Linked DNA regions of Homo sapiens: region 1 is linked to region 2. The links come from fine-mapping of genetic effects on gene expression. A gene starts in region 2. The other region holds a variant in brackets. All regions are shown on one strand. Distances are between the middles of the regions.

The links.
Region 1: its variant is fine-mapped to the expression of ELOVL6 in whole blood (TOPMed, PIP above 0.99).

Annotation. Positions count from the first base shown.
Region 1 is chr4:110,153,411-110,170,126 of GRCh38, reverse strand. All of the region lies in intron 1 of ELOVL6 (ELOVL fatty acid elongase 6), which reads left to right. Among named protein-coding and RNA genes, the nearest start is that of ELOVL6, 37 kb to the left of the region's middle. The variant T/A (reference allele first, on the strand shown) is at 7,749.
Region 2 is chr4:110,190,569-110,207,284 of GRCh38, reverse strand. ELOVL6 (ELOVL fatty acid elongase 6) reads left to right here and starts at 8,670. Exons shown (of 4, transcript NM_024090.3): 1 at 8,670-9,038. The coding sequence starts at 8,950. RefSeq lists enhancers at 8,297-9,089, 10,678-10,972 and silencers at 10,004-10,633, 10,834-10,943.

The DNA.
Region 1 (16,716 bases), 37 kb after region 2:
AAACAAAATATAGGCTGGGCTCAGTGGCTCACGCCTATAATCCTAGCACTTTGGGAGGCCAAAGTGGGTGGATCACCTGAGGTTAGGCGTTCGAGGCCAGTCTGGCCAACATGGTAAAACATGGTAAACCCCCATCTCTACTAAAAATACAAAAATTAGCCAGGTGTGGTGTCACACGCCTTTAGTCCCAGCTACTTGGGAGGCTGAAGCAAGAGAATCGCTTGAACCTGGGAGGCAGAGGTTGCAGTGAGCTGAGATCGCACCATTGCACTCAGCCTGGGCAACAAGAGGGAAACTCCATCTCAAAAAAAAAAAAAAAGAAAGAAAGAAAAGAAAACTAAATATAAAATGAATATAAGCATAAATTCATAAAAATAAAAATTTTCTTAAAATTAGATCAAAAATTTTTGTTTCCTAAGGGAGAATCCAGAGAGAACTGGGAAGAAGAGTGGATAATTTCCAAACACCTGTGTGTGCTCACACACACACCGTGAATCCTTCACCATTGTTTTAATATGGAAGATGATTGGAGTGTGTTTTCTAGAAATTCTGAATAATACTTATTTAAAGACTTCTATTGGGCTGGCCAGGCATGGTGGCTCACGCCTGTAATCCCAGCACTTTGGGAGGCTGAGGTGTGTGGATCACCTGAGGTCAGGAGTTACAGGCCAGCCAGCCTGGCCAACATGGTGAAATCCCATCTCTACTAAAAATACAAAAATTAGCTGGGCATGGTGTTAGGCACCTGTAGTCCCAGCTACTAGGGAGGCTAAGGCAGGAGAATCACTTGAACCCAGGAGGTAGAGATTGCAGTGAGCCGAGATCGCACCACTGCACTCCAACCTGGGTGGCAGAGCGAGACTCCGTCTCAAAAAAAAAAAAACAAAACAAAAAACCCCAAAACTCTGTTGGGGTCGGGTGCAGTGGCTCACACCTGTAATTCTAGCACTTTGGGAGGCCAAGGTGGGTGGACCCTGTCTCTACCAAAAATACAAAAATTAGCCAGGTGTGGTGGCATACACCTGCAGTCCCAGCAACTTGGGAGGCTGAGATGGGAGAATTGCTTGAGCCCAAGAGGTCTAGGCTACAGTAAGCCATGATGGTGCCATTGCAAACCAGCCTGGGTGACAGAGTGAGACCCTTTCTCAAAGAAAATAACATTTAAAAAAGACTTACTGGACGTTTAATAAGGATATTATTAACTAATAATCATTGAGCTTACCACGTACCCACTAAAGGCTTCATGAACATTAATTTAATTAACCCTCCATTTTATGAAGTAGGCTTTGTGATTGGGCATGTCTTGGAGATGAGGTTAAGTAACTTGGAAAAGGTGGGACACCTGGTGATTGGCAGAGTGAGGCTTCAAACCCAGGCAGTCTAGGTCCACACTGCCTGTCCACAGAGTCTGGGTCTCTCCTGCTTTGGCTTATGACGTCAGCACCTACTGGGAAAATTACAGAAACCATTTTCAAAGGTGATATTTTGAAAAGCATATGGTGGGGCTCATTTTGTTTAAATGAGCTCTGCACAATGAAAGCACGTGAGAGCAGTTTTTGAAAAAGTTCTGATTGCATCCATTGAATTTGACTTTTTTTTTTTTTCTTTTTTAGACAGTCTTGCTCTGTCGCCCAGGCTGGAGTACAATGGCACGATCTTGGCTCACAGCAGCCTCTGCCTCCTGGGTTCAAGTGATTTTTGTGCCTCAGTCACCCAAGTAGCTGGGATTACAGGCATGCAACACCATGCCTAGCTAACTTTTGCATATTTTTTTAGTAGAGACGGGGTTTCGCCTTGTTGCCCAAGCCGGTCTCGAACTCTGGGCTTCCAGCAATCTGCCCACCTCAGACTCCCAAAGTGCTGGGATTACAGGCATGAGCCATCACACTGGCCTGAATTTGACCCTTACTCTAATGATTTATAGCCATATAATTCTCATGCAATAAGCTAAAAATACACCTAAAAATGATTTACTCTCAAAGGGTTTTAACTTTTTTTCATTGAATCTCTTTTATGTTCACTTAAATTTTGGCTCTGTTCATAAATTGATACAAAGACAAAATTTCCACTAAAATATTAATCTTAAGTAGTAGACGTTTTCTAACTATACCTTCCAATTGGAATTAAGCATTTAATCTAAAATTATATATCAAAAATACAAGAAAGAACTTCCTTAATTGCCTGGATATGTTTCTGCCTCTCAAGGCCTCAGAAAGTTTTGTACAAACTGTTAGAATAGCCCTAATCATGGAGATAGGTGTTTTATTTTTTCTCTCCAAAAGCATAAGAGAGGTTGGGTGCAGCAGCTCACGCCTGTAATCCCAGCACTTTGGGAGGCCAGGGTGGGAGGATGGCTTGAGGCCAGGAGTTTGAGACCAGCCTGAGCAGCACAGGGAGACCCTGTCTCTACATACAAACATACATACATACATACATACATACATACATACATACATACATACATACATACATAACTGAGGTGGTGGCAGGCACCCTGTAGTCCCAGCTACTTGTGGAAGCTGAGGATCATTGCACCACTGCACTCCAGCCTGGGCAACAGAGTGAGACTCTGCCTCAAGAAAATAAATAAAATTTATAATGTTCCCCCTTCACTCCCCTCTCTGCAACCAAAAAAACATCCTTTAGTAACTCTTATGTAACCATTAAAACTATATTATAGAAGAATATATCTTGACAAAAAAAATGTATACCACATGTTGCAGAAAACTCTGCTTATGAAACAGCATGTATAATAACAAGGCCAATTTGTAAACACACACAGAGAGAGACATATTTACAGTTAGTATAAGGTTAAGTACTTAACGCTGTATGTACTAAAACACAAGTCCTTTTACTGTGCATGTAAAAATACTCTAATAGCGATTACATTTTGAAGATGGGATAAAGTTTTTATTCCTGAGAACCAGAAGTGTGTCTCAATGCACCTAATATTTTTGCCAGTGGAGAGATACTGAAACCCTGTGATCTTCAGCTACTGTGTGCATTCAGACTGTTTGGTCTTCTTGGGTCAAGTCAGCTGGTGATTACTAAATGATGAGAGTGTGCCTGACATGCAGGAGACAGGTGAGAAGACAAAGAAATAGAAGGCAATGTCCTAGCATTGGCAGACAGACAGACCCTCTGTATATATTTCAACTTATTTGGATCACAGTCTGTTTAGGAAGGCAGATGTACATGCAAAATACAGTAGAATGCTACAGAAAAAGAACAAATATTCCAGTGCTGGAATATAGTATTATAGTAACTATAGTATAGAAAATCACTATGTGCTAAGAAATTTAGAAACACTCCAGCAAAAGGCAGGGACTTTGAGAGCTAATAGTTGGGTTGATGAAAAAGGAAGACGGAGTTTCCTTTCATGGTGGTAGCACCAGAATACTCATGATGTCTTATATGCTAACCATGAGGGCTGACCATGCTGAGATTAACAGGCAGTGTTCATTGCCTTCTGGCAGCAAGGGCAAAAGTGGAAACACAAGAATTTTTTCTTTTTTTTGAGACGGAGTTTCACTGTCACCAGGCTGGAGTGCAGTGGCGCGATCTCGGCTCATTTACAACCCCTCCTCCCGGGTTCAAGCGATTCTCCTGCCTTAGCCCTTCTAGTAGCTGGGACTACAGGGCGCGTACCACCACACCCAGGTAATTTTTATATTTTTAGTAGAGATGGGGTTTCACGGTTGTTGGCCGGGATGGTCTCGATCTCTTGACCTCGTGATCCACCTGCCTTGGCCTCCCAAAGTGCTGGGATTACAGGCGTGAGCCACCGCGCCTGGCTGAAACACAAGAATTTAAGAGAATTCTTGTTATCTGAAAAGAAAGGTGATGTCTCATTATTGCTCAAGTAAGTTAAGAACAAACCAAGGTCCTAGCCCAAAGACAACAACATTTGAAGGAAAATCAGGGATATAATGTCAAAGAACACTGCAGTCCAGGGGCGAAATGAATGTGCCTTGAGCAACTTCTCTAGGATCTCACTTGATAGCAGGCTGGGATTTATAGTACCCAGGGGAAGGCTGACAGTATCTTTCCTCCAGATCAGCTCTGAGCTGGGCTTTTGTTGATAAGCTGTCCCAGGAGTGCTGAGGCTCTGTCACTGACAGAGGAGGCAGATGTATTGAAAGCAGGATCGTGGGTTGATAATTTGTTAGGGATGTAGAGAAGCCTAACTGGTTTTCTTACGTGGAAAAGACCACCCTCTTTTCCCACTTCCCAGATGTGCTAAACTCTTCTGGCAGAGGATATAGGATTGTCCTTGGGGAATTAGCCTTGGGTTCACTCCAATGCATGGGTAAATGTTTGGTTTTGCAAGGCAGGTGTTACCTGGCCAGCTCCACATACTTTATTACAAAAATCCTCCTGTTAGTTCTGACAGGAATGCATCATAATTGTTATTTTATAGTTGAGGAAGCTGACTCTCAAAGAAGTGATTAACTCATCTCTGTGTGTGATTCAGATGAGATTAGAACCGCCCAGCTCCTGAGACCATGCTACTTCCTGCCTACCACAGCCACATGTGCTACAGAGAACAAAGCTGAAGTGCAGGCTGCTGTGTCTCTGAGCTAGACAACCTGAGCTCATCCCTCCTGTTTCTTGCAGTGCTATTAAAATGGAGGATTTGATGAGCAGCAGTAGCTGAGAGGAGAATCAGCCTGGCCTGACTAAGGTTTATGTGGGGTTTGAGGAATAAAGTTGGGTTGTGAGGGTCGATTGGAAGCTTGGAAGCCAGGCTAAGGAGTTGGAGTAGGTCTGCTAGACAGGAAGGAACCACAAAATCAGGAACATAATGGTGGAAGGGCCTCCTGTAAATTGTCGATACTTAACTATTTTGGCCTATGAATGGCAATAGCACATGGTTCCACTAAACAGGTGCCCTGGTATTGTTTTCTGTGAGAGGATAATGGAGAGGGTTGCTTATAGTTTGTAGATATCTAGCAAATGGTCTGTTTTGCTAGTCCAGCTAGTCAGAAACCAGTCCTCTTTTTGAAGAATAGAGATCAAACCTGCTCTACAAGCTTATATGTTTACCACAATTTGGGTGGCATGATAAAGACTAAATGCACAGAAAGGCCACATACCACATTACATTCAGGAAATCCTTTCTTAGTTGGGTGTGGTGGGGTGCACGTGTAGTCCCAGCTCCTCGAGAGGTTGAGGTGGGAGGATTGCTTGAGCCTGGGGGGCAGAGGTTGTAGTGAGCTGTGATTGTGCTACTGCACTCCAACCTGGGCAACAGAGTGAGACTCTGTCTCAAAAAAAAGAAATTCCCCAAAACAAGAAATTCTTTCATCAGAAATAAATGAGCAGCCTACCAACCCACCTGCCTTCCAACCTGAGTGTTTTTTTTTTTTTCTTTTTTTTTTTTTTTTTGAGACAGGGTCCCACTTTCACCCAGGCTGGAGTGCAGTGGCGTGATCATGGCTCATTGTAGCCTTGACCTCCCTGGGCTCAAGCGGTCCTCCCACCTCATCCTCCTGAGTAGCTGGGACTACAGGTGCATGCCACCACACCGGGCTAATTTTTCTATTTTTTGTAGAGATGGGCTTTCGCCACGTTGCCTCAGCTTGTTTCTGCCTTGGCTTCCCAAAGTGCTGGGATTACAGGCATGAGCCACCTCACCCGGCTGTGCTTGCTTTCTTGTGACAAATGTTCATGGCATCTTGTGGCAGACTTATGAAAGCTGAGTTAGGTCAAAGTGTTTCCTTAGTGCCTAGCTCAGAATACTCATGCTATACAAACCGTTTTACTTTTTCCTTTCCTAGGGTGGCCTTGGCTTCATCTTCCCTCACCTTAACTTGTCATCAGGGCAGCAGTGTATCAAACTCTGGGACCTGTGGATTCAGACACAGTTTCAATTCTGCCTTTGCTACTTAATGACTTGGTGAACTTGAGCACATTCATTAACCTCCCTAGGCCCCCATTTCTAAGTGTGAAATTGAGATAATCAAATTAGGCTGTAGTAATAATTAAACTAGTTAAGGTGTGTCAATGGCTTACAAAATGTCCAGCACTTTCTAGGCTCTCCATGAAAAGTAGCTTTTACTGGCATGACTCTCAGCAGATATTTTAGTATTATTTTGCTTTCAACTGAGTAATGAATTCCTAGCCAACATTTTTGAACTTCTCATTACACATTCAGAAATGTCATGTCACAACCAGGGCTAAGAACTTTTCATTGCTCCCAAATTGCCTGTCACTATGACTCAGATTTACCCACCTGATAAGGAAGATTCCTTGACCTTAACTCACCATTCGATCTTACAGTTAGTTCTCCCATTGCTCTATAAGTATCTTATGACCCTGGCAAATTAAACCACTGGAATATCTCTCTTCTTTCTCTATTTCTGAAACTTAGAAAGCCCAACTCAGTGCTGCCACCTTCATACAACCTTTTAAGGTTTTGAACTTTTAATCTTAAACTCTTCCATTTTTGCTTTTCATTTGGCAGTGGTAGATTTTCTCATATTAAAGTCAGTTGTGACTTGTATATCACCCTTCTAGCATTTTATACTCATTGATGATAAGACTTGGCCTTCATCCCAGTCTGCTACACTATGCGGTCAGTCCATAACTGTTAAATTTCAGTGACTCAGTTTGATGAATATTTATTGAGGAGCCTGTATTTGCCAGACTCTGTTCCAGGCACAAGGCCGCTGTTCTCAGAGACCGTTCATACCACTAGGACACAAACACTAAACATGTAAACAAGTATATAGACAAAATAACATTAGATGTTGCTAACTGCTATAAAGAAAATAGTGTGATAGGAGGTGACTTGGGGCCAGAGGGAGCTGTTTTAGCTAGGGGGTCAGGGAAAGCCTTACTAAAGGATTGGCATCTGACCTAGTAGCAAATGAGAAGACCATGTTAGCCCTGGGCCCATCTAGGAGAAGAGAGATCCAGATAGGACACAACAAATACAAAGCCCCCTCAGGTGAACTGTGTATGGCTTCGCACCCAAGTAGGCTTCTGCTTTCTGTTTTGTGTCTGAATACCTCAGATATTGATTGCACATTTGAATTGTAGTTTGGAGTTCATATATTCTCAGTGTGATTCTGTACTATTTTTATCTAAATGATTGGGTCTTTCTTCATTCACAGGGACTGATTTTCCCCTACATAGTCTTGGACACAGACCATTTAGTTCAAACCCCAGCTGCACCACTGACTATCTGGGTGACCTCAAGTAAATTGTTCACTCCTGAAGACTCAGTTTTCTCTTCATCAATGAGTGTCCCAATAACTGCTTTGCAGAGTTGTGAAAATCTAATTAAATAATGTCTATTAACTAGTATGTAGTAGAAGCTCAGTAAACAGTGGAATTTATTATGTTGCATATCACATTTGTGTACCTTAAAATTTGGCGTACTTCAGCACATTCATTAACCTCCTGTAGGGAGGCAGGAGGAAAATGGCAACTTTAATTTTCTGGGGAAAACAGTCATCCAAAATATCTATATATTCAGGCCTGGCACAGTTGTTCACACCTGTAATCCCAGCACTTTGGGAGGCTGAGGTGGGTGGGATTGCATGAGCCTAGGAGTTGGAGACTAGCTTGGGCAACATAGCAAAACCCTGTATCCAAAAAATAGAAAAAAAATTAGGCATAGTGGCATGTGCCTGTAGTCTCAACAACTCAGAAGGCTGAGGTGGGAGGATCACCTGAGCCTGAAGAGCTCAAGGCTACAGTGAGCTGTGATTGCGCCACTGCACTCCAGCCTGGGCAACACA[T/A]TGAGACCCTGTCTCAAAAAATAAAATAAACCCACAACCCACAAGATGTCTATATTCAGCAAAATGGTTCAGCACAGCCTCTTGAAATCACTACATTAAAGTTTTACTGAGTCTGACTAAAATTAAGAAAAAATTTTGGTTGTCTGTTACCTTTATAATTAATTTTACTATGGGTAATCTTTCAATCATTTGCTCAGTTTTCTACTGTTAGCATTCTTTTAGTTTATTTTTTAACTTTAGATTAAAACAATTATAAACTAGGCATGGTATAAAATTTAAAATGTTCCACAAGGGTATGCAGTGAAAAAGTATTTTATATAAAGGACTACATCCCTTTCCCCAACCACACAATTCTCCTCCCTGCGGATAGCCAGTGTGCTCTTCAGAGATGTTTTGTGTGCACAAAAGCAATTACAAATAATGAGATTCTCATTATTCCAGGTAGATATGTTCTGTAAAGTCACCGCAAACACTGAACTTGTGAATATGGAACCCTTGCACTTAGGGAAATACAGCGTTAGTTTCCTGAGAGCTTTTGGTTACAATATTTCTGATCAACACATAACCTAGTTTTGTGTGTGTTTCTGCTTAAAATACCTTATTTAACATATATTGTTGATTCCTTAACATGGAACTCACAGCCAACAGCACTAACTCATGCCTGAATGAAGCTTATCTAACATACGTAGTTTCTCTGTAAGACCTGTTGAAGCCTTCTCGTTCTTAGGAACATGAGATAGCAGTAAGCTTGGGAGCCATTTTAAACCGTGAAATTGCCAACACAAAGCACAAAAATTGGAAAGACATGGAACTAAATAAGACTGCAAAAGAGACACCTATTTTGCAGTATGAGAGCTGAACAGGAGGCAGTGTGTCACCTTGCTCCACCTCAGCTGGGGATGTGCAGGTCAGGCAACTCCAATTTTTCATCCCTCTGTGCATGTTTGAAAATGACCATGAAAGTGCCATCAGTATAGACTTGGGGTTAAATTTTCATAAGTAGGAGAATTTGCAAATACAGAATCAGTGAATGAGGATTGACTATATATTTTTTTCCTTTAAGAACACAAATGCTAGTATATAATACATAGCATTTTGTATCTTACTCTATGGACTTAACAGTGCATCTTGAAGATATTTTATACATACACAGACATATTTCATTTGAGTAAACTACGAGCTTCTGCATTCTATATTGTTCAGGCTGTATATAATCCATTACATGGGCGTTTGTGTTTTTTTCCAGTCTTTTATTACTTGGATTACATTGCACTGGAAATGTTGCTAGATACTGTCTTCTGTAATGGTTGTATATTATACCTCTCTACCACCATTACAAGAGGGAATAGATAGCATTCTTTCATGTAGCAGCATCCATTGCTAATTGTACTGGATAATGACTTGAATTCTATTTATTCTTTAGTACTGATCTACTCTGTTGGAGAAACCAATAAGGTGCAAGACTCCACTGAATAGAAAAGCAACAATTAAAACCATAAAGGAGTCAGTCAGTGTGTGAGATGCTTGCATTCCTTCTCTCTGTTTAGCTGTTTCCCAACCCTTTTATTTGTTGCATGATCATATCTCTTATCCTTATCTTCACTGTGGAATATAGTCAGTGTTTCACATGAAGGAATTTATTAATTTCCCTTTGTAATTAAACTTTCTATAGAAAACAATGTATTTCAAAAGTGCACATTGCAACAACATATGGGCAACATGCATATTTTTAGTATTTAATTGTTACAATAGCCTAGAGAGGATAATTTCAGTAAATCAAAAATATCTGAAGCTTAACCACCATGAGACTGGTGTTGATGGAAGCTTGTAAACTAGCACGCCTATGCAAATTATTTACTGATACTGTTTTTAATCCCTGACTTCATTTCAGTAACAAGAGATAGACCATAGACCAATAAGTAATATATTATTATAGTTTGTATATACATAGCATGTCTGATAGCGATTCCTGCTAATGAGTAAAGCAACACAGGAAGTCAGGGGTGGGTGGGCCAGTGGAAGGAAGATATAATTTTGCAGGGATGTTCAGGAAAACAATATTGAGCAAAGGCTATAAAATAGTGAGAGTGATCTATGCCAGTTTTGAAATTCAAGGCCAAGGAGAGGGCCAGTGAAAATGCTCTACCTGTAAGGAGCTTCTTTGTCAAGGGAGACAGGGTGTCAGGAGCAACACTGTCATGGAAAGATCTCCAAGATACACTGTTAAAAAGACATCCAATAGTGTTTGTGTGTGTGTGTGTGTGTTTGTGTGTGTGTGTGTGTAAGTTGTAAGCAAACCCTCATGTGTTGTTTTTTAGAAAACTTTGATGTTTAAGTGTTTTTCTTTAGGTGCCACTTTTCCTAATGTTAAAAGAGGTCGTACCAATCCATAAGAAAAATATAGCTCAATAATAACGACATGAATAGAAAGTTCACAGGAAAGGAAATTTTTTTTAGCCATTTCTTTCAGTAGACATGTGAAAAAATGCCTAAATATACTCATAACGGAAAAAATAAAATAGCAATGAGATACACTTTCATCTTTTAGATTGTGAGAGGTTAAAATTTTTGAGCAGTCATCTGAGTGTTAGAGAGAAATGTGCTGTTGAAAGTGTGAATTTTTGTACATTTTGGAATCCTTTTGCAGGGTGACTTTGCATTCTCTGTAACTGTTAGAAACACCAACGTCTCATGTGTTAATGTGCAAAGATCTCAAAGATACATCATTGTAAAGTGAAAAACACCAAGATGCACGATAGTTTTTAAAATATGATTTTTAGAAAGTATATGCATTTATTGATACGTGAATATGCATAAAAATCTGAAGTGGAAGAGAGTTCATTAGGAAAGAGAAGGAGACTTGGCTTTTATTTTACAACTCCCTGTGTTACTTGACTTTTAAAAAAAAAAGAAAAACTGTGTACTTTATTTCTATAGTAAAAAATTAAAACCATACAAATTTAATTGAAAGATAACTTCTTTTTCTACTTTACATGATTAAGCAAAGTAACTTTTGTCATCAAGTTATTATCATTGTCCTCTCATATATTGTTAACTAATAGTTCTCTTGTACTATAAATCCCATGACAGATTTTTGTCTGTCTTGTTCCCCTGGGTTTGCCCTGGTATCTGGGCACATGGAAGGCACTCCATAAAAGTGTATTGACTAAATGCATAAAGGAAAATCTTTATTTAAATAAAGTATCTAATATTCCAGCATGACACTATCTTCATGCTGTCAGGTATATAATTATTGTCTCAGTTTTACAGGTAAAAGAGAGAAAAATCTATGCAAATCACAATGTAAGTCTAGAAGTGATTAAAATTGATAAAAAGCAAAGCAACTATGCAAAGTAAGAGCTGAGATTCAGATTTTGTGAGTCATGACTATTTGTTTAACTTAGTAATCCAATATCTTGGCCAGGCACGGTGGCTCATGCCTGTAATCCCAGCACTTTGGGAGGCCAAGGCAGGCGGATCACCTGAGGTCAGGAGTTGAAGACTAGCCTGGCCAACGTGGCGAAACCCCATCTCTACTAAAAATACAGAAATTAGCCGGGCATAGTGGCATGCGCCTGTAGTCCCAGCTACTTGGGAGACTGAGGCAGGAGAATCCCTTGAACTTGGGAGGTGAAGGTTGCAGTGAGCTGAGATTGTGCCATTGCACTCCAGCCTGGGCAACAAGAGCGAAATTCTGTCTCAAAAAAAAAAAAAAAAAAAATATATATATATATATATATATACACGTGTATATATGTGTGTGTATATATATGTGTGTGTGTGTATATATATACATATATATATAGATGTATATATATATCTCTCTCCAATATCTTGGCTGCCAATTAGAGAATGGTTATTAAATTTTGTCCTGGTTCTTGACTGATCGTGCCCTCGGGATACAGAAAAATGTTAATGAGTGTGGAGTTTTTCTTCCTAAGAGTTGTGTTCCTTCTCAGTAAACCTAGTATGATTAGAGGAAATGTGTAGGTTGATCTCACAGGTGCTACAAAATAAAGCACATGATGTTTAGTTAAAAATGTTTGTGATCTTCAAAATGGGGTTTATTGAATTATAGACTGTGCACACAATGGTCCACTAGGTTGTTCTTTACTGTAGTTATCTATTTCTGTGGAGATGGATGAATATGTAGTGATGTGGAAAGATGAACTTTTCATAATATAAAGCAGAATAGGGTTGTATAGTATGTTTGGATTTTTGTTAATAACATGTTAAAAGTGTCAAATTGCCAACAAGGGCAAGAGCATAATATAATGATTTTCTGAAACCATGTGTTAAAGCATAATTAACTAACTTGACAAATACAGTTTCAATGTACTATATCCATGAACTTTGGTTTATCTTTGTGTTTATATATAAAGTAATTGGATATTTAATGATTATTTAAATGTATTTAGTTAATTCTTCTTGTACCTAGAAAAGGATTTGCCCTGTCAAAGACAAAGTGCTGGTCCACTTCTTCATGAATATATATTTCCTACTTTTAATAATTTGCTTGTCAATATAATGAGACTAACAAAGTGCCATTTAGGCTATTTCAACATGTGTAGTTCCCTGAGGGCACATAGCTTTACAGCTTCCATAGCAGATACTATAATTCCTTGAGGTAGTTGGCACTCAGTAAATGTTTATTGAGTTGATGATTTTCTTAAGGAAATAAAATATCCAAGAAATTTTTTTTTTTTTTGAGACGGAGCCTTGCTCTTTCACCCAGGCTGGAGTGCAGTGGCGCTATCTCAGCTCACTGCAACCTCCGCCTCCCAGGTTCAAGCAATTCTCCTGCCTCAGCCTCATGAGTAGCTGGGACTACAGGTGCATGCCACCACGTGCAGCTAATTTTTGCATTTTTAGTAGAGACGGGGTTTCACTATCTTGGCCAGGCTGGTCTTGAACTCCTGACCTCACTTGATCCACCTGCCTCGGCCTCCCAAAATGCTGGGATTACAGGCATGAGTCACCGCACCTGGCCTATCCAAGACATATTTTAGAGTATTCAGTCACTTCTTTTCCCTCCCTCTAATTACTGTGTACTATTATTTGGCATTTTACCAGCTCAAAGTGGAATAACTATTTTTGCTTCACATTGTATGTACCAAATTAATTTCATATTATGCTTCAGTTTCTCCTACTTTTTGCAATAAATTATAGAGGGAACAAATGAAGTTTGTGGTTACTTGACACTAGGGGCGAATAAAATGTTTGAGCCTTTCTTTTCCCTCCTCCTTCTTCTTGGCCTTGCTAGAAGAACCCCAAATGGGCAGTGACCCAGATGGCCATTTACTTTTGGACTATCCTCCTTTTCAAATCTGCCAAAAATGATTAATCAGAATGATGATTAGCCAGTTTCTATCAGTTGTTACAAATCAATTATGTGACTAAGGAAACTGCATCTTTTACCAGCCTTGTTATGGCTTCTTTTAACCGCAAATATCCAGTTACTGGTTACCATATGAAAGATTTCTTTGAGGACTAATTTTGTGTTTTCAGTGTGGATGCTTTTCAGTTTTATGATATATTTTGTTCCAAGGCAGATACTCGTTAATCCTATTTTACTTACTAAGGTAGTATAAAACTAACTGCTTAAAGAAATGAATTCAATCCACTTGTCTCTTCTGTCCTGAAAAAGAAGCATGTGCTTTATTACATGGGCCCGTTTCTTTTTCTGTTTTTTTGAGGCAGGGTCTCGCTCTGTTGCCCAGGCTGGAGTGCAGTGGTGCAATCCTAGCTCACTGGAGCCTCAGTCTCCTGGGCTCAAGTGATCCTCCCACCTCAGCCTTCTGAGTAGTCGAGACTGCAGATGCTTGGTGCCATGCCTGGCTAATTTTTTAATTTTTTGTGGAGACGGGGTCTCTCTAGGTTCCCTAGGCTAGTCTCGAACTCCTAGGCTCAAGTGATCCTCCACCCTTGACTTCTGCTGGGATTATAGGCATGAGCCACTGTGCCCAGCCAGAACCCTTTTATTTGTGTTAATATTTAGTAAGATTTTAGATGGAGGTCAGTCCAATGTGGAAATGTCTTGGAAAAGCCCTTACCTTTCATTATCTCCTCTGCAGCAATCCTTCAGGGAGAATCACATCCTAATTCTAGGTCACTTGTTACCTAATCCTCTTTTCCTGACACAGCTTCTCACTCCAGAAAACATTTTAACTTCCTGAATATTAAGATTCTACTAAATGTGGCAGGCTCTGTAACAACCACCAATCCTTTACATTTTCAAGGTGGCTCTGGTGCAGCCTCCAGTTTTCTTGTCTTCCCCTTCTTATTTTCTATTCCTTTATTTGTCTCTTGAATAGGTATTTAAAGAAAGGAAAGCAGGCATATTTGGATATGTGCCCACTAAGGCACTATTCCTGAGAGAAGTTTGCAAAATGTCTTTTTCAAATGCCTGTGTGCTTTATTATTCCTATACTGCCTTGTAGCAACGCTCATTATTCAGGGCAGTGGTTCTCAACATGAGCTGTGCTTCCCGTGTTGTAATTGTCTGGGAACCTTTTATAATCACCAGTGCTGAGGCCTTGACATCTGTGGAAGTGGGGGTGGGAGGTTAATAAATCTCTCCAGGAGATGTGATGAGAACCTGTGGTTTAGGAAGATGTTAGATACGAGGAGGTTGTTGATCTGCCCCCAAGCTCTCTAGCAATTCTGATTATTTTAAATGTACCTGCAATATGTAGCCATTGTATCATGCATATTGAACTGTCTCGGGGTCTAGATATGGATATATGAACCAGGACGACTTGGGACTCTTACTGTCTGGAAAGAATGGCATTGTGTTAGAGGAAAAATAAGTGTTCCAAAAAAGCTCAATCGCATAGATAAATTCTGATATTTGTGATACAAATTGTTAAACTTTGATTTTGTAAAATATTCAATTTGTAATACAACCTATTTAAGTATCTTTGATAGATTGAAAAATTATTTTTTTCTGACTATTGTAAATAATAATTTTTTTTGCTATAGATTAGGAGTTTCCTATGCTCTCAGTCTCTAGGGCTATCCCTTCTGTATTAGTATAACTATAACTATATAATATGTAATAAATAGTATGTGACCAAATGTAGGAAGATTTTTAAAGCCATGACCATTATGATTTGATTCTTAAAAAACAATCATAATAATTTATAATTGAAAAACTTTTAAGAAGTAAAAGTTTTGGTCTATGTGAGTGTGGTCAATAGGTACTTCAAAATTAAATGTTCATAGAAGTTTAAAAAATATATTACTAGTTATGCCCCAAATTTGCTAAATATTTATTGGGCAATTATATATTAGTATATAATAGCAGTATATGCTATGTAGATTGTATAGTACAATATATTGTAGCAAGCATATATTAAGTGCCTAACGTGCTTAAAATATATTGCTCATTTAATTCTCAAATAATGCTGCAAGAATCAGTCACAGGATTGATAACTGTCAAAAAAGTAAAAGTTGGACTCAGATCTCTCTTTGTGGAAAGTCCCTGTTTTGACCTCTAGCACATTTTTGACCTAGCATTTCTTCTCCAAGTTAATTACAAATAAGAGATAGGATCCATAGTTAGTGTGACATTATAGCCTGTGATTATCTGTTTTGGTGGTTACACTGCCACTTCCCTTTCATGTAGCACCAAGCCATCTTCTCAACTCAGTGGGGATGGTGTAAGAGAAAAGTTAGCAGCTGGTAAGAAATTCGGTTTGGGTCTGATGACAGAAATAGCTCAAAAAATAACTTTGCTGAGAGGCAATCACATGTTCACATCAAGAAATTAATATCACAGCCTGGGCAACACACAAGAGCTTGTCTCTATTAATAATAAAAATAGGCCAGGTGTGGAGGCTCATGCCTGTAATCCCAGCTCTTTGGGAGGCCAAGGCAGGAGGATCACATGAGGCCAGGAGTTCACGACCAGCCTGGCCAATATGGTGAAATCCTGCCTCTACTAAAAATACAAAAATTAGTCAGGTGTGATGGTGCATGTCTGTAATCCCAGCTGCTCGGAGGCTGAGGCAGGAGAATCACCTGAACCTGGGAGGCGGAGGCTGCAGTGAGCTGATAGCGCACCACTGCACTCCAGCCTGGGAGATACAGTGAGACTCTGTATCAAAAAATAAAATAATAAATAAAATAAAATATTAGCTGGGTGTGGTGTCACACACCTATAGTCCCAGCTACTTGGGAGGCTGAGGTGGGAGGATCACTTGAGCCTAGAATGTGAAGGCTGTGGTGAGCCATGATTGCGCCATTGCACACCACCCTGGGTGACAGAGTAAGACTATCTCAGAAAAAGAAAACAAAAGAAAAGAAATTAATATTGATGGACAAAAAGCCTGGTACTTTTAAAATTTCTTAATTTTACTAAATAAAAGTGGAATTGGTAATTTTAATAGACAAAGTCTGTGCCTTGGTATAAAATTGGGGAGAAAAAAACTTCCTGTTTCCTTGCAAATGAAGTAAAGAATGCTGTTAGGGCAGTGGGGACAGCTAAGCCTTGTAAAGCTGCTTACATTGCATTAGAAACTACAAAGTAAGAAATAGCCCATTATTCCACTTCTAGTTATTTCAGGAATGACACTGGAGAGCTCTGTGGATCCTACTTTAAATGAAGATCTGTTAGTTTAAATCTGCAAAACCACTCTTAAAATTTTAAAAATTATAACAGTTTTTCATTTCTCTATATATGTTGGAGCATAAGGTTTCAAAAGCTTCAATTTCAGGGTGCCAAGAAGAAAACTGTTTTAAGAATGGGATTTACATAAAGGGTAAAATGTGTCAACAGCTTATGAATCTGAAAGGAGCATTTATTGGCTATAATTTTTTTTACATGGCATTTTCAGCTGATCACCCTTGTTGGATTTTATGTCAATAAGTACATTTCTCATCATCTGTAACTGTGGCAATTTTTAATCCTCCACTATTAATTATCAATTAAGTTTTAGCCCACCATCTATAAGTAGCATTTAAATTA
Region 2 (16,716 bases):
AGCAGATGCTCAATAAATGAGATCTATTATTACTTCTATCAACATGTACTTTTCTAAATCAACTGATAGTCTCATATAGGAGTCTATCTGGATCTTTTTCTCATCCATCTATTGGGATGGTGCAAATTTCTTCCCTATTTGCAGATGTTTCCCTCTCAATAAGACATCAATATTCTATCATGTGTGTTGAAAATATCTTATTCTCTAGTACAAATTTGCAGCTTCTAATAAGCCTACGTTGTAGGTTTTGTTTCCAGAGTTAGAATCAAATATTGAAACTAGTTCAGGGCAAAAGAGACGTATTTTCCATCCCCATGTAAGTTAATAAAGAAAAGCTCTTTATAAATATTCAGTTGGTCAATGTTCCCTGAGAGTAAGAGGAGGTGATGAAGAGGAAAAAAGGTAAATTATGTCAATTGGATTCATCCTGTTCTATGGTCTAAAGTTGAGAAGAAATGTCTCTTTTTGGCTAAAAATACACACTCTCTGGCCTGCGAGTGGGAGGAGGACTCAACTGTGGTGGTTAAGAAGATGGATCCAGAGTATCTGGATTTAGATTTTGACTTTACAGCTAAAGAATTGAGAGCTCTTGGGCTGACTACTTAACATCAGTGTGCTTCAGCTTCACATCTGTAATTTGGAATAATGACAGAAAACATACAAGCTGGTGTCATGGGAGGAAGGCTGCTGGGGAGCCATGGTCAGGAGATTGAATAGTGTCCCTTCCTCCAAATTCATGTCCACCTGGAACATCAGAATGGGACCTTATTTGGAATAAGGGTCTTTGCAGACATAATAAAGATAAGGATCTAAATGAGATGATACTAGATTAGGGTGGATCCTAAATCCAATGAAAGTGAGTTTATAAGAAATAGAAAGAAGACAGAAAGACGGAGAGAAGAGGGTGATGTGAAGATGGAGGCAGAAATTGGAGTAATGTGTCTACAAGCCAAGGAATGCCACAGTTTGCCAGCAACCACCAGAAGCTAGTGGTATGGGACAATTTCTTCCTCAGAGCCTCCAGAAGCCAACTCTGCAGACATCTTGATTTCTTTTTCTCCCTAAACTGATCAGCAGTATTTTGATTATTTTTTTCCTGACACCTGGATTTTGGACTTCTAACCTCCAGAATGACATGAGAATACATTTTTGTTATTTTTAAGCCATCAAGTTTGATCAAGTTTGTGGTAATTGTTATGGCACCCTAAGAAACTTTGGCTTCAGGAAGTCATCGTTCCTGCGATCAAGGGATTTTTAATTTCCTACATGGGAGAGGATGATGAGCTAAGGGCCTGAGGTTTATAAAAGCTTTGATAACAAGGACTTCAAGAGGTTAGGAGACAAGAAAGAGAGAAATCATCTCTGTGAACAGGGAAGGCTTTAAGTAGGAAGTCGTTCGTAAGTATCCAAAGAGTGGACTGATTTTGACAGGTAGGAATGGGACAGGTGGGGTTAGGAGGGGAGGATATTGATATTCCAAACAGAGGGAACTGATGGAGAAATGCAGCAGAGATAGCAAAGTTTGAGGTGGTCAGATGACATCAAGTGGTTCAGCTTGGTTGGAGTCGGCCTAAGGAAAGAGGCCTGGAAAAGCAGATTAGTGTTAGAAGTTTCCGAAAATAATGTATGTGTATTTTAACATATTTGTATGTCACAAAAATTGGGGGCTGGTATGAAGATCCTCCAGCATAGTACTGGTTATTTTATGTATAGAAAGAAAATTAGGCTGGGTGAGGTGGCTCACGCCTTGTAATTCCACCATTTTGGGAGACTGAGGCGGGAGGATCTCTTGAGCTCAGGAGTTTGAGAGCAGCCTGGGCAACGTGGTGAGACCTCATTTCTACAAAACATTTTTTAAAAATTAGCAGGGCTTGGTGGTGGGTGCCCGTAGTCCCAGCTACTTGGGAAGTTGAGGCAAGAGGTTCACTTGAGCCCAGGAGTTCAAGGATGAGGTGGGCCATGATTACACCACCACACTCCATTCAGCCTGGGCAACAAAGCTAGACTGTCTCAAAAAACAAAAACAAAAACAAAGAAAAGAAAAGAAAATTAAAGGATCAATTTACTTTCCCTAAAGTCAGATACCTGTCTGTAAAAGAGCCAAGACTAAAACCTGTATACCTTGTTTAGTAGTCAAGTCATCTTTGCAGTAAATCTTTCTGTCTTTCAAATACTCCTCCTTCTCTTCTGGCTTAATTTTTATTTTTTTCTCGAGACAGAGTCTAGCAATGTCTCTCAGGCTGGATTGCAGTGGCGCCATCTCAGCTCACTGCAACCTCTGCCCCCCGGGTTCAAGCGATTCTCCTGCCTCAGCCTCCCAAGTAGCTGGGATTACAGGCGCCCGCCACCACGCCCAGCTGATTTTTTGTATTTTTAGTAGAAACGGGGTTTCACTATGTTGACCAGGCTAGTCTCAAACTCTTGACCTCATGATCCGCCCACCTCGGCCTCCCAAATTTTTAAAAGTTTACTACCAAATATAAATTAACTGTTACTTTTTGAGCCCCAGTTATTTATATTCAATATTAGCTACCTATCTAGTTATGGTTAGAAACACACACAATAAATCTTTTCATAAAAATTCTTAGTGGTGTTGCTGGGCACCCTCCCAACATTCCCTCCCATCTTTCCTAACCTTACTGTATGTCTTGTAATTGAAAATAAGTCTAGAAAAATCACCATTTTATATGTTTAGCTTCTAATATTATGTTACATGTTAAGTTGTTCAGTATAGAAAATTACAAATAGAAAAGTGACTCATTATTTCACAGCTCAGGTATTCCTGTTGATTTTTTTTCTTTTTTTTTAAATGAAATCAAGTTCATGGTAAGAAAATTCTAGCACTACAGAAAAATAAAGTACAGAAACCGTCTTTTGTTTGCTCTCAGGTTTTTTCTCAATGTATACATCACCAATTAATTCTTGTTTTTGTCTTTCCAGAAAAAAAAAGTACAGTGTAGATGTTTCTCTTTTCTTTTCTTTCTTTCTTTTTTTTTTTTTTAGCTGATGTCTTGCTCTGTTGCCTTAGGTTGGAGTGCAGTAACACTAACATGGCTCAAGACCACAGGCTTGTGCCACCACATCTGGCTAATGATTTTTTAAAAATTATTATTATTATTATTTTCTTTTTGTAGAAACAGGGTTTCACTATGTTGCCTAGGCAGTCTCAAACTCCTGAGCTCAAGCGATCCTCCTTCCCCAGCCTCCCAAATGGCTGGCATTACAGGTGTGAGCCACCACATCCGGCCTTACATGTTTTCCTCTTTTTTTCCTCCCCAACCACTACAACGAGAGATGTTTTTTTCTTAATGCGACACTATATACACAATGTCCTGTGCCTTGCTTTTTCATTTTCCTTGAACATTTATCAGAAATCTCTTTTGATGTTGCAACCTACAGAGCCTTTTTTAAAAGACTTTATACTATTCAATTATAAGGGTGTGTCACCATTTATTTAATCAGCCTCCTATTTGTTAGGGTCCACCCAACCGGACTGTTTCCCCCTCCCCTAGACCTAAGCCTCAAAGGCCAAAAGTAAAACCCACTACCCTAAACCTTCCTGTAACTGTCTGACCAGAGGCCAGCTGTTCCAGGATGCAGTCAAGACATCTACCTCCACGCCTGGTGCTCAGAGAACGTTTTACACCCCCTTTTTGCCATACAGTCCCAATTCTGCCTCCCTAGCCAAGGTATATTCTTTCTATGCAGCACCTCCACCTGCTTCTGTCTACCCACCAACTGTACAGGCACCTGTACACTGGTCTTCCTCAGCCCTAAAATAGACATAGCTCCAGGAGAAAACCTGCCCCTCCAAACCCTAAATACTCAAATCCCACACAGCAGGCGCCAGGCCATACAACTTATCCCACTATTTGTAGACCTAGGCATCACAGTGGCCGCAGGTACAGGGGTAGCAGGAATCGCAACCTCCTCTTATTACCATAAAACCTTATCAAAAGACCTTTCAGATGGTATAGACAACCTTGCAACTTCCATATCCCCTTACAAGCTCAGCTGGACTCCCTAGCGGCAGTCGCCTTACAAAATCAGAGAGGTCTCAACCTACTTACCACCGACAAAGGAGGATTCTGCATTTTCCTAGATGAAGAATGCTGCTTTTATTTTAACCAGTCAGGCTTAGTTCAGGATGCAGTAAAAAACAAACAAACAAACAAACAAAATCTCAAAGATCGAGCCCAAAAGATCAGGGAAAGCAGCTCCTCTACGTGGCCCTCTTGATCTCTCAGCACCTGGGCCGCCTGGCTACCCTCTCTCCTTGGACCTGCTGTAATCCTTTTTCTCCTCCTAATCTTAGGTCCTTGCCTAATACTCCTCTTCACCCAGTTTTTGCAGAATCGTATCCATGCCTTTGCCCATGGAACCATACAGGTCATGATGTTACTCCAGGAGTATCAACACTTTCAAAACCAAAGCCAACCTCCACTTTCCAGCCTTTCCCCTAGCCCCTGCCCACTCTCAGCCTGAAGCAGTCTGATGAAATCAATGCCCCTTCTCTATCATCTGTTAAAAGGCTGGAATGTTAGGGTCCACCCAACTGGACTGTTTCCCGCTCCCATAGACCTAAGCCCCAAAGCCCCACCTGTAACTGTCGGACCCGAGGCCAGCTGTTCCAGGATGCGGTCAAGAAGTCTACCTTACACAACAGAACTGGCAAGAAAAACAACTCCAGGAAGCGGTCAGACACCTGGCACAAAGGATCCCCTACTCCCTGGCCTTTTCTTTTTCCTTCACCCTGACCCAGTTATATGCCCTATAAAACCTTGCTATATAGCCTGTAAGCGGGGCTGCCTCCTCTGCTTTTGTCAAGAGGTAGCCCACCAGGACTGACAATGAATCACATTGACTTGAGTCTATTGACCTCATTCCTTTCTTGGCTGTCCTTCCAATTATCCCTTAAACTATTATTTTCAGTGTTTTATTATAAACAGTGCTGAATATATTTGTGGGGGTTTTCTTTGTTGGTGTTGTCATTTTTTGAGACAAGGTCTCACTCTGTCATTCGGGCTGGAGTGCAGTGGCGCAATCATGGCTCACTCCAGCCTTGACCTCCCCAGGCTCAGGTGATCTTCCCACTTCAGCCTGCTGAGTAGCTGGGAATATAGACACATGCCACCATGCTCAGCTAATGTTTTTGTATTTTTTTTTTTTGTAGACACAGGTTTTCACCATCTTGCCCAGGCTGGGCTTGAACTCCTGGGCTCCAGCAATCAGCCCACCTCGCCCTCCCAAAGTGCTGGGATTACAAGCATAATGCCAGCCCAATGCTGAATATCTTAGACATATATCCGGAATGTTTCGGTGAGTATATCCATAGCAGTGAATTTACTAGGAATTATCATGCTATTATTCGGTTTAACATTCTTTTATCCTCCTCCACTCCACTGCAGTTGAGAATAAAATCTAAACACCTTATCTTGATTTACCTGTGGCCAAGATCTGACCCCTGCCTGTCTCTTCAACCTGTTTCTTTCAATTACTCCTTACTGATGGCCTGAAGCCACACCAGCCTTTTGTCCTCAATCCCGCAAATTTATTCTTTTCCTAGGAGCCTTTGTACTTGCTCATTCTTCTTTGTAACACTTCTGCAAGAGGTGGCTGGCTCTTTGCCAGCGGGGTCTCAACTCAAAGTCCTTCTCCCTGAGGCCTTCCAGGTTTAAATGAGCACTCCCAGGCCTTCATGTCATGCTGTTAAATTGTAATCCTAGCATTTCATTCTCTAAGAAATTATTTTGTCTTCCCTTCTGGAATGTAAGCTCCAAGTGCGCAAGAGCCCTGTTTGTCTCATTTGTGAGTCCCAAGAGCTCAGATGAGTATGTACTCAAAATATATCTGGTAGGCCAAGTGCGATGGCTCACGCCTATAATCCTAGCACTTTGGGAGACTGAGGCAGGCAGATCACCTGATGTCAGGGGTTCAAGACCGTCCTGGCCAACATGGTGAAACCCTGTCTGTACTAAAAATACAAAAATTAGCTGGGCATGGTGGCACATTCCTGTAATCCCAGCTACTTGGAAGGCTGAGACAGGAGACTCACTTGATCCCAGGAGGCAAAGGTTGCAGTGAGCCGAGATCGCGCCACTGCACTCCAGCCTGGGCAACAGAGGGAGACATCATCTCAAAAAAAAAAATAATTCTGGTGAATTAATGGTGTGGATTTAAAATTGTGATATATGCTGGGTGCCTATAGTCCTAGCGTGGAAAACATAACAAGTCCCCATCTCTAAAAAATAAATGAAATTATCATATAGGCTGCCAAATTGCTTTCCATACAGAGTCACCAGTTTTCAAAGTCACTGACAGTGCTTGTTTGTTTTTGAGATAAGGTCTCACTCTGTCACCCAAGCCGGACTGCAGTGGTGTGATCATGGCTCACTGCAGCCTTGACCTCCCAGGCTCAAGCTATCCTCCCATCTCAGCCTCCAGAGTAACTGGGATTACAGGCATGTACCACCACACCTGGCTAATTTTTAATTTTTTGTAGAGATGGAGCCTCACTATGTTGCCCAGTCTGGTCTCTAGCAATTGTCTTGCCTCAGCCACCCAAAGTGGATTTTCTGTCTTGATTCCTTTCTCACTTCTTACCTTAATTTATTTGATGAATCATTCACTTTACAAATATTTATTGATTATTCACAGGCTCAGGCACCGTGCTAAAATGGTTCTTTCTTATCTGGCCACACCTATCTTCCAGCCCAATCTTGCCAAGAGTTTTGGCCTGGGCCTTACTTCAAAGTGACGTAGACTTGTACTGTAGAGGTCTCTAGAAAGACAACCCTTGGCTGGGCATGGTGGCTCATGCCTGTAATCCCAGAACTTTGGGAGGCTGAGACAGGTGGATCACAGCCAGCCTGGCCAACATGGTGAAACCCCATCTCTACTAAAAACACAAAAATTAGGCGGGCGTGGTGGTGCTTGCCTATAATCCCAGCTACTGGGGAGGCTGAGGCAAGAGAACCATTTGAACCTGGGAGGCGGAGGTTGCAGTGAGCCGAGTTTGCACCACTGCACTCCAGCCTGGGCAACAGGGCGAGACTCCTCCATCTCAAAAAAAAAAAGAAAAAGAAAAAAGAAAGACAACCCTTAATGGGGGAGATGAGGACAGTCCCTACACAGAATCTTTGGCAGTGTCAATGTATACATTAATTTGCTAATCAACTAGGCTAGCCCTTTAATCTATATATTGTACTGGATTTTAAAAATTATTTCTTTACTTTCTCATTAGACCTTCCTCTTTTTTTTTTTTGTTTGTTTGTTTGGAGACAGAGTCTCCCTCTGTCGCCCAGGCTGGAGTGCAGTGGCAGAATTTTGGCTCACTGCAACCTCTACCTCACGGGTTCAAGCGATTCTCCTGCCTCAGCCTCCTGAGTAGCTGAGGTTACAGGTGCCCGCCACCACGCCTGCCTGATTTTTATATTTTTAGTAGAGACGGAGTTTCACCATGTTGGCCAGGCTGTTTTGAACTCCTGACCTCAGGTGATCCGCCCACCTCGGCCTCCCAAAGTGCTGGGATTACTTCTGTGAGCCACCACCGCGGCCGGTCCCTTCCTCCTTTAAAAATTTTTCTCCCAGTTCCCACTTTTTGTGGGTTAGAGGCATCTAAATTGAATGAAAGTACCCTTTTTGGACTACTGGGGAGGTGGGGGGATGTTCTCAGAAGGGGAATTTTCTTTCTGGTCCTAATATCCACCTAATTTTTAAAAGCAGGGCTCCTTATTATTTTGTAAAGTTTACAATTACATCATTAGATACTTCCATGTCTCATATTTCATTTTTCCAAACTCTTGGGGGAAATGAGTGGAGGGATGGATGGAATAGAAAATAGTTTTTCCTCTTGGAGGCTGAGGGCCCAGTAGGGGTCAACAGTACATTCAGCCCTCTCCTCACATATTCTGTTCTACCTACAAGTACAGCAAGTAAAGCCAAATTTCTCATGCATGCAAATAAAGTTTTTGCATTTGGCCAGTCGGTCCAGTTCTCCTGTCAGCTTCCTTCCCCACTCTGCCTCTGTTCATTAATCCCCCCCTTCCCGGTACCTAAACCCTCCACCTAACCCAGCCCTTTCTTCCACTTCCGGCTACTAGCCTCTCTCGCCTATCCACTATCCTCACACTCAGCATCCCCTGTCTGTACGAGATTAAGGAGCTCTGCCGTCCGCAGGGCCTGGGTTAGCGTGAATCTAAGCCAGAGCTCCCGGGTGGGGGTGGGGGTAGGGGTGGGGGTGGTCCCAGAGGTAGGGCGAGGAGGTGGGAAGCGTATTCCCTTCACTGGTGATCTCAACGTAGATTTGCCCGGAGTTCTCTTGCAAGAGAGCTGGCAGGTTTTACTATTTCCCAATCGTTTACTCGCCAAGCTCTCGGGTCCACGCGCCGCGGGGATGCGCCCTGCAAGCTGAAACTTCATTCAAAGCAAGGCGGCCCACGAGGTTGGGCTTAGGGGATCTGGATGACCTCCAGGCCACTTCCTTTCTCTCTGCGCCCTTCCCCCACTCTTCCAACCACCTTCGCTGTAAACAAAACTGTCCCCCCCGGGCGGAGAGAGGTCGCGCTCTTTCGCACACTCCCTCGCCAAGGGTTAATTTCTCAAATCGCACGAGGGGGAGGAGATTTCCCTGTAGACGAGTAAAAAGGGTGATGGACAAACGTGCGGGCACTAAGACCGCAAGGCATTCATTTCCTCCTACGGTGGATGCGGACGCCGGGAGGAGGAGAGCCCCAGAGAGAGGAGCTGGGAGCGGAGGCGCAGGCAATGCTCAGCCCTGGATGTAGCTGAGAGGCTGGGAGAAGAGACGACCGCTGGAGACCGAGCGGCGTGGGGAAGACCTAGGGGGGTGGGTGGGGGAAGCAGACAGGAGAACACTCGAAATCAAGCGCTTTACAGATTATTTTATTTTGTATAGAGAACACGTAGCGACTCCGAAGATCAGCCCCAATGAACATGTCAGTGTTGACTTTACAAGAATATGAATTCGAAAAGCAGTTCAACGAGAATGAAGCCATCCAATGGATGCAGGAAAACTGGTACGTGATGCTTTCGCCTGATACTGTTCCCGGGAGCCCTGCGCGTCTTCCCGGAGTGCCTTAATGTCGGTATTCCCTGCCTGGGCGTGAATGGAGCGATGAATCGCGGGCAGCCAGCTGATCGCTGAGTTCTCGGGTCTCCCGGGTGCAGGAGACGCTGGGGGGGGGGGGGTACATGAAGCGCGAGGTCTGTGGGTGCCCCTGTGTGAACCGCGGCTACATAGGCATCTTTTATATAGATTATATAACACAGAACATATGTGTGTGCACAGGGTGATGTCTGCGCGACAGGGAAGGCGGGAGAGATGCCACAGTCCAGATCGCCTACCTGTGCTCCCCTCCCCTCCCCCGGTTTTCATCTAGATTTGGGTTTTCTCGCTTGGCCTCTCCCGCAACCGGAGTGTGAAAGGCAGTGGAGGGAGGACCTTGTCTCCTGTTGCCTTTAACCCTCTCCCGCCCGCCGCCCTTGGCCCTGGTCCTCGCTGTCTCTCCATCCCTCGTGTCCTTCCTTTCTCCTTGCAGCGCTCCTACTTCACCGTCCTCCTCTGTCTGCCGCTCCTCAGGCGGATGCCCCCTTTTTAGTACCCCTTTCCCCACGCGGTTCCCTTTCCGGTTTCATAGAGAGACCGGGTGGGAGGGAGGAGGGGACAATGAAAACAGTAATAAATGAATGAACCCGAGCGAGTGGAGCCACGCCATTATTAAGTTTCTGTTTTACGGAAACGCCTTTTGGACACACTTCTAATTCTGTGCGTAGCTGCTGATTGGAGTTCAGGCACACAGATTAAAAGCCCCTCCGTCTGCAGAGTCCTTAGGGGCTCTTCCCTAGGAAACTAATAATCAGGGAAAACACCTTTCTTGTTTACTGTAGTCCCCCCGCCAGACCTTTTGAAAATCCCTGTGTGGGAGGCGATCCAGTGTCACCTTGCAATATTTAACAGAGGAGGGTGTGCTCATCTCGCTTCTTGTAGACAGGGTTGTGGCAGAGGCATTCCTCTCCTCCCCTTAACTTCGGGTCTGGCGATCTGTAAAGTTCAAGCCCAACGCACCCCGGAGCTAGGCAAGGGGCCGGCAGCCCGGGGGATGGCTTGACCGGGGAGGGTCGGGCCGCAGGGTCTCCCGGGAGCCGGGGGATTCCGCCCGCCGCGTGCGCGAGCGCGCGTGCCCCGCGCCCTCCCGCCTGCCCTCTTCAACTGGAAACCAGAAACGCCGGCGCGCCTGTGGCCTGGGCGGGTTGGTGCAGTAGGAGCTGGTGCCACGGGGCCGCAGCTGCGAAAAGGGGGTTTCAACTTCCTGTCCTCCAGCCCCCTGGAGTCGCCGGCCAGTGTCGGGAGGCCCGGCCGCCGCTTCCTTCTCCTCCCGCCCGGCCGGAGCGCGCCCACTCCCAGCTTCCCGCGGGCTGGTCCGGGCCCCAATGGCCATTTGCGGCGGCTGCCGGGCGGAGCCCGCCTCCTGGGCCGCGCGCACCGGCGGGGCAGGCCTGCTTGGGGTGAGCTGCGGCGTGGCTGGTGGCGGCGGTGGGCTAGGGGCCCAAGGGCCGCGTCTGGCCCGAGCCGGAGCCTAAGAGGCGGGGACGCGGGCCGCTCGGAAGGACTGGAAGTGCAGCAGCCACACAGGCACAGGGCTGGTGCCCTCCCGGGCCGCTGAGGCCAGGGGGTGCAGGGGTGGGTCCGGAAGGAGGTTGGACACTAAGGGTCGAGACCGCAGATAGACCTCGGCGTTTCGGGGCAGCCGAGGCCCCTCGAGCCCCACCGCCCGGGGTCCTTCTCTGGATGCACTTCCTCCTCCCGCTTAGGGGGTGGTGCTGGAGGCGGGGAGGGGGCGGTGGCCGGAGCCGGCGGGCGCCGGAACCGCGCTGCTGGCTAGCCCCGGGCCCGGGTCTTCTCCGCACATGTTTGTCATATCCTCCAGCCGGCCTGTTCGGGCCCACAGTCCTCCCGCATTAGCCTGTGTGGTCAGTGTGGTCAGCATTTGCTTCTGTGCCGAATCTCTGACTTGCTGCGTCCTGGTTTAACCTGCTCTTCCGGAGTCCGCTTTCCCTCGCTTTGCTGGCTGACCCCATTCACTGTACGCCCGCCATTCCTAGCCCACTGCAGTCGATACTGCCTCTTATTTACTTGTTGCTTTTTCTCTGAGGCCACTTCCTAGGCCTGCTTCAGGTACCATTTCCCGCCTCTTCTCTCCATTCACTCAGTACTGAGCCAGACAGGTCTCAGCCCTCGTGGGACTGAAAATGACAAAAATGTGCCAACGTATCTACTCCTGTTAGGTTCTGACCACTGTTTCCTCCTAGTTCTTTATCTGTACCTTTCTTCTGGCAATATCCTTTACTGTTATATACATGGTTATTAACTTACAGACCATCAGCTCTTCAGGTTACGGTTCTTGTCATCCCACTCTTGATTCTGCAAAGCACCTAGCAGAGTGCTTTGCATAAGGCACATTCTTGAGAAAATGTCCAGTGAGTTGAAATGGTGATTGGTGCCCATTTTATTGCCAGCACTACTCGTTAATACCCGAAGGTTAACAGGCTAGAACTTGCATACCGTGGCAGAGTCACATCTTGGGATTTTTCCCTTCCTGGCTTCTGCTCTCTGTTGATGTTATGTTCTTAGATTGCTTATTGCAGTCAAAGAACCCTGCTGGCTGTTACCCCTCCCTTGCAACTCTTCCTGACCCTAATTGTCTTACTTTCATGTTTTTTTTTAAATGCCAGATTTTGTGCATTTCTCCCAATATCCCAGGGTGCCCAATTTTATCTCTCCTCCCTCCCCAAAAACTGTACAGCCAAAAAGACTTTAAACACTTTTTAAAATTTAATTTTATTAGCCGGGTGTGGTGGCTCCTGCCTGTAATCCCAGCACTTTGGGAGGCTGAGGTGGGTGGATTACCTGACGACAGGAGTTCGAGACCAGCCAGGCCAATATGGTGAAACCCCATCTCTACTAAAAATACAAAAAAATTAGCCGAGCGTGGTGGCGGGTGCCTGTAATCCCAGCTACTCGGGAGGTTGAGGCAGGAGAATTGCTTGAACCCGGGAGGTTCAAATTAAAGCTTTTAGTTTTTATTTTTAATAGAATCCAGCTAATGCAGGACAAAAAGTCTTGAACCAGATTTTCTTTTCACTCCCTTTTTAATAGGAGAAGGGAACTCCATAACCAAGGCTTAGACCCTCTTGAGGAGAGAGGAACTTGAGGAAACCATAAAATCTTACCTTTTTCAGACTCATTAACTTAAAATGGTTTGAAATAGCTTCTGGAGGAAAAACATGATATAGTGAAGCTTCTACTCTGTCTTTTGGGAATTTATGGTTGTCCTTATAAATCTCTTCTTAGTAACAGGCAAAACTTGTTAATTTAGAGAATTAAAACATCCTCTCTCAAAAGTGAACTACATTGGCTTTTGAAGAACTGTGAGAATGGCCAGGAGTAGTATTTTGCCAGTATGCTGCCTTTGCTAACTAGCATCATTTAAGAGGACCTAAAATAAGAATACTTTATTAAACATACGCTATAATCCATACTTACTAACCATAGCGCAAATTAATGTTAACATACCCTATAATCCATACTTACTAACCATAGCACGTGTTAATGGAATGGGGCCCGACTTTTGGAGTAGCATTTGTATAAACCCTAAAGGGTTCAACTGAGGCTAGTTTTCAAGTTTATTGCTGCTTTAATGAATCATTAACCTCATACTCATTGGCCTAGCCATGAAAGTAAATACTGCAGACTTTTTTTACTTTGCTAGCAAAAAGTTTCATATATAATAGGTTAGAATAGCAATTGAAATGCAAAGTAATAAGTGTATTCCCTTGTAGAATCATCCTGGGCCTCATCTTGAAACTACATGTCCAGTGAAAAATATCCTGTCTGGTTATATTATCTGGTCAATGAGAGTTTATTACATGAGGTAGAGAAAAATGTCTGCTCATAGGTCCAAATAGGAGTTTTGAATTCTAATTTTCACTGAAAAGTCCTTGCAATTTTACAACATTGAAAATAGAGACATTTTGCTCTTTTATGAGATGTCTGGCCTTTACCTGTTTTTCTCACTAAGAGCTGACTTAAGTTGGAAGTGCTGCTAGCCAGGGAGCAAAATCACCTGGTGATTGCTAAGGCGACATATAATTCATTGAGTGAGAAGGGAAGCTGGGCTCTCTCTGCCTTCTCTTTCAGCAGCCTGCCAGGTTTGTGCTAACAGCAGTGGATGCTAGTTGCTCCAGTTGTAATTGTCTAGCCAATGATGATTATCTTCTGATGTCGGCTGACACGGTGCCCACCAATAGGAAAGCAGGAGGCCTGTGCTGACTGCTGTAACATTATGTATGTGAGGTGACGTCTTCAAAGGGCTTGCCTAGAACTTCATGAAACCCTCCCCCTCTCCTGGCATTCTCCACACATCCAGCCTTTCAAAGCTTTATATATTTTTCTGACTTTTCTCCCCACTCACTCCCTTGGTGGTGTAAAAGGGTTTACTTGTTTTAACATTTTGTATTCTGTATTATAGAGTCTATAAGATAGTATAGGAATTTTAAGAATTAAATGCTGTTCAGCTGAGGAAGCCTTTTTATTCACAAATTTGTTTTTACCAAAGGTAAAAATGGAGTGAAACATTTTATTTTATTTTGTTTTATTTTTGAGACAGGGTCTCACTCTGTTGCCCAGGCTGGAGTGCAGTGGCACAATCTTGGCTCACTGCAACCTCTGCCTCCGGGTTCCAGTGATTCTTATGTCTCAACCTCCCAAGCAGCTGGGATTACAGGTGCCTGCCATGACACCAAGCTAATTTTTGTATTTTTAGTAGAGATGGGAATTCACCGTGTTGGTCAGGTTGGTCTTGAACTCCTGACCTCAAGTAATCCGCCCACCTCGGCCTCCGAAAGTGCTGAGATAACAGGCTTGAGCCACTGCAACCGGCCGTGAAACATTTTAAAAGGAGTTGTACATCTATATCTTTTTTGTAGGTGAAGTTTGGAAAGTAACACGATGTACAATTTCATGATTAAAGAACATAAAAAGCACTAAAAACCTGTGTTAGCATTTAACTCAAATATAGCAGCATAAAAAATATAGCAGCATAATGTTAATGAAACTGTTCAAATGCAGACATAGTATTTGGCTGTTGTTTTTCATTTAGTGAGGATTGCTTTGAATTGCTTCCTGAAGTCTTCCTTGCAACCTTCTACATTCATTTGTAAGAAAAATGGCTGGAAAACAGTGCATCTGTGACTATGGAACAGAGTAGGCCAGAGTTTCATTTCATCATTAACATTGCAGCAACAAATTTGGTCAGCTCTGTAGGAATATAGTGTGTCTATATTGTACTCATGTCACTTGCTGTTTATTTTGAGGTATCACAGTTCATATTGATTTAGGATTAAAACTTGTGTGAGGATCATAACATGACATTCAATAATTTTTAGAAAGCACTGGGATGTAGGCATATGTACTAGGTTAAGAGTGAGAAGAATGAGAAAATACATAGAGAAAAAACGTGTAATCTGTGTGGGGTCCTAGAAAATAATGTAAAGTTGTGCTGGAGCTTTGATATGAACTTTCATGTATCTTTTAATAAATTATAAATATTCATGCAATTCTTGTTTAGGATTCCAAAGGATGAAAGCCAGCTTAATGCAAAATATTTTATGATTATATTATCCATCTGTGTATTTGTACTAGTTATAATTAGTGCTTAAAATTTTTTCATGAAGTCTTTTTCACATTGGAAGTAAAATTTTGTGATCTTCAGAGGATTGCCTGTTGCTTTTTTGTTTGAGGGTGATTCTAAATGTGTCAAAGTGTATAACATTGGAACTTAATGAAACTTTTCAAATGCAGACATAGTATTTCACTGTTGTTTTTCCTTTAGTGAGGATTGCTTTAAATTTCTTCCTGAAATCTTCCTCGTAACCTTCTGCGTGCATTTGTAAGAAAAATGGCTGGAAACTTCAAAGTCAACTTATTCCATATCTAAGAGTTGCCTTATATACTTCCTTGAAAGAAGAATCTTTCTTTTTCTTTTTTTTCTTTCTTTCTTTTTTTTTTTTTTCTTGGATGGAGTTTTGCCCTTGTTGCCCAGGCTGGAGTGCAATTGTTCCATCTCGGCTTACTGCAACCTCTGCCTCCTGGGTTCAAGTGATTCTCCTACCTCAACCTCCTGAGTAGCTGGGTTTACAGGCATGCGCCACTACACCCGGCTGATTTTTTTGTATTTAGTAGAAACGAGTTTTCACCATGTTAGTCAGGCTGGTCTCGAACTCCTGACTTCAGGTGATCCACCTACCTCGGCCTCCCAAAGTGCTGGGATTACAGGTGTGAGCCACCATGCCCGGCCAGAGGAATCTTTCAGCTTAGATAGTGGAAGAGTTATGAGGGGGACGGAGGTTTTGAAATACTTAGGGGGATATACAATAACCATCTAATCAATTTTCTTTTTCTTTTCTTTTTTTTGAGCCTGGTCTTGGCTCACTGCAACCTCTGCTTCCTGGGTTCAAGCCTCAGCCTCCTGAGTAGGTGGGATTACAGGTGCCCGGCCCCCCATCTAATCAGTCTTTAGACAACAAAGTAAAATGAGTGTGGCACCATTCTGGCAATTCAGGAATTTATCTTGGCTTAAGTGATCTGAAATATTTCAGGTCCAAGTATTTTATTTTCTGAAATGAGTTAACCAAACATTGTCTTAATGATTAACTTAATTTTTCACATATGGACACAGGTGAGCCAAACTGTCCTTTATTAATAGGAACCAGACATCATTCTACAAAGTTTGCCTCAGCCCTCCCTTTACTCTTTATGTAGCTCACATCCACCCGCTCCCATTTACTTCTCATTTATCTTTTTTAGGAGGGTTTAGGGAAAGTTACCTGTACCACATATGTCATTTCTGTTGATAACCCTAGGTAATCTGAGTGAAACTATGACTTGGCTATATTGTAATGTTAAAACTCATAACTTCATTCCTTTATCCAGATTCTGATTGTACATGTATTCAGGCAGGTACAAATGTTGGCATAGTTATTGAGGTTTCTGAGAACTTTAAAAAAACCCAGCATCTCTAATTATATTTACCCTCCAATAATTTATTTTAGAGATACATGGGTCCTTTTTTAAAAAGTATTGTATGGGTCGGGTATGGTGGCTCACACCTGTAATCCCAGCACTTTGGGAGGCCGAGGCAGGCGGATCACTTGATGTCAGGAGTTCGAGACCAGCCTGGTCAAAGTGGCGAAACCCTGTCTCTACAAAAAATACAAAAATTAGCTGGTCATGGTGGTACGCACCTGTAGTCCCAGCTACTCTGGATGCTGAGACACAAGAATGGCATGAACCTGGAGGCGGAGGTTGCAGTGAGCTGAGATTATGCCACTGCAATGCAGCTTGGGCAACAGAGCAAAACTGTGTCTCAAAAAAAACACAAAAATTGAAAAAAAAAAAAGTGGCCGGGCATGGTGGCTTATACTTGTAATCCCAGCGCTGTGGGAGGCTGAGGTGGGTGGATCACTTGAGGTCAGGAGTTCGAGACCAGCCTGGCCAACATGGTGAAACCCTATTTCTACTAAAACTACAAAAATTAGCCGGGCGTGGTGGCGGGCGCCTGTAATCCCAGCTACTCCAGGGGCTGAGGCAGGAGAATCGCTTGAACCCAGGAGGCCGAGGTTCCAGTGAGGCGAGAT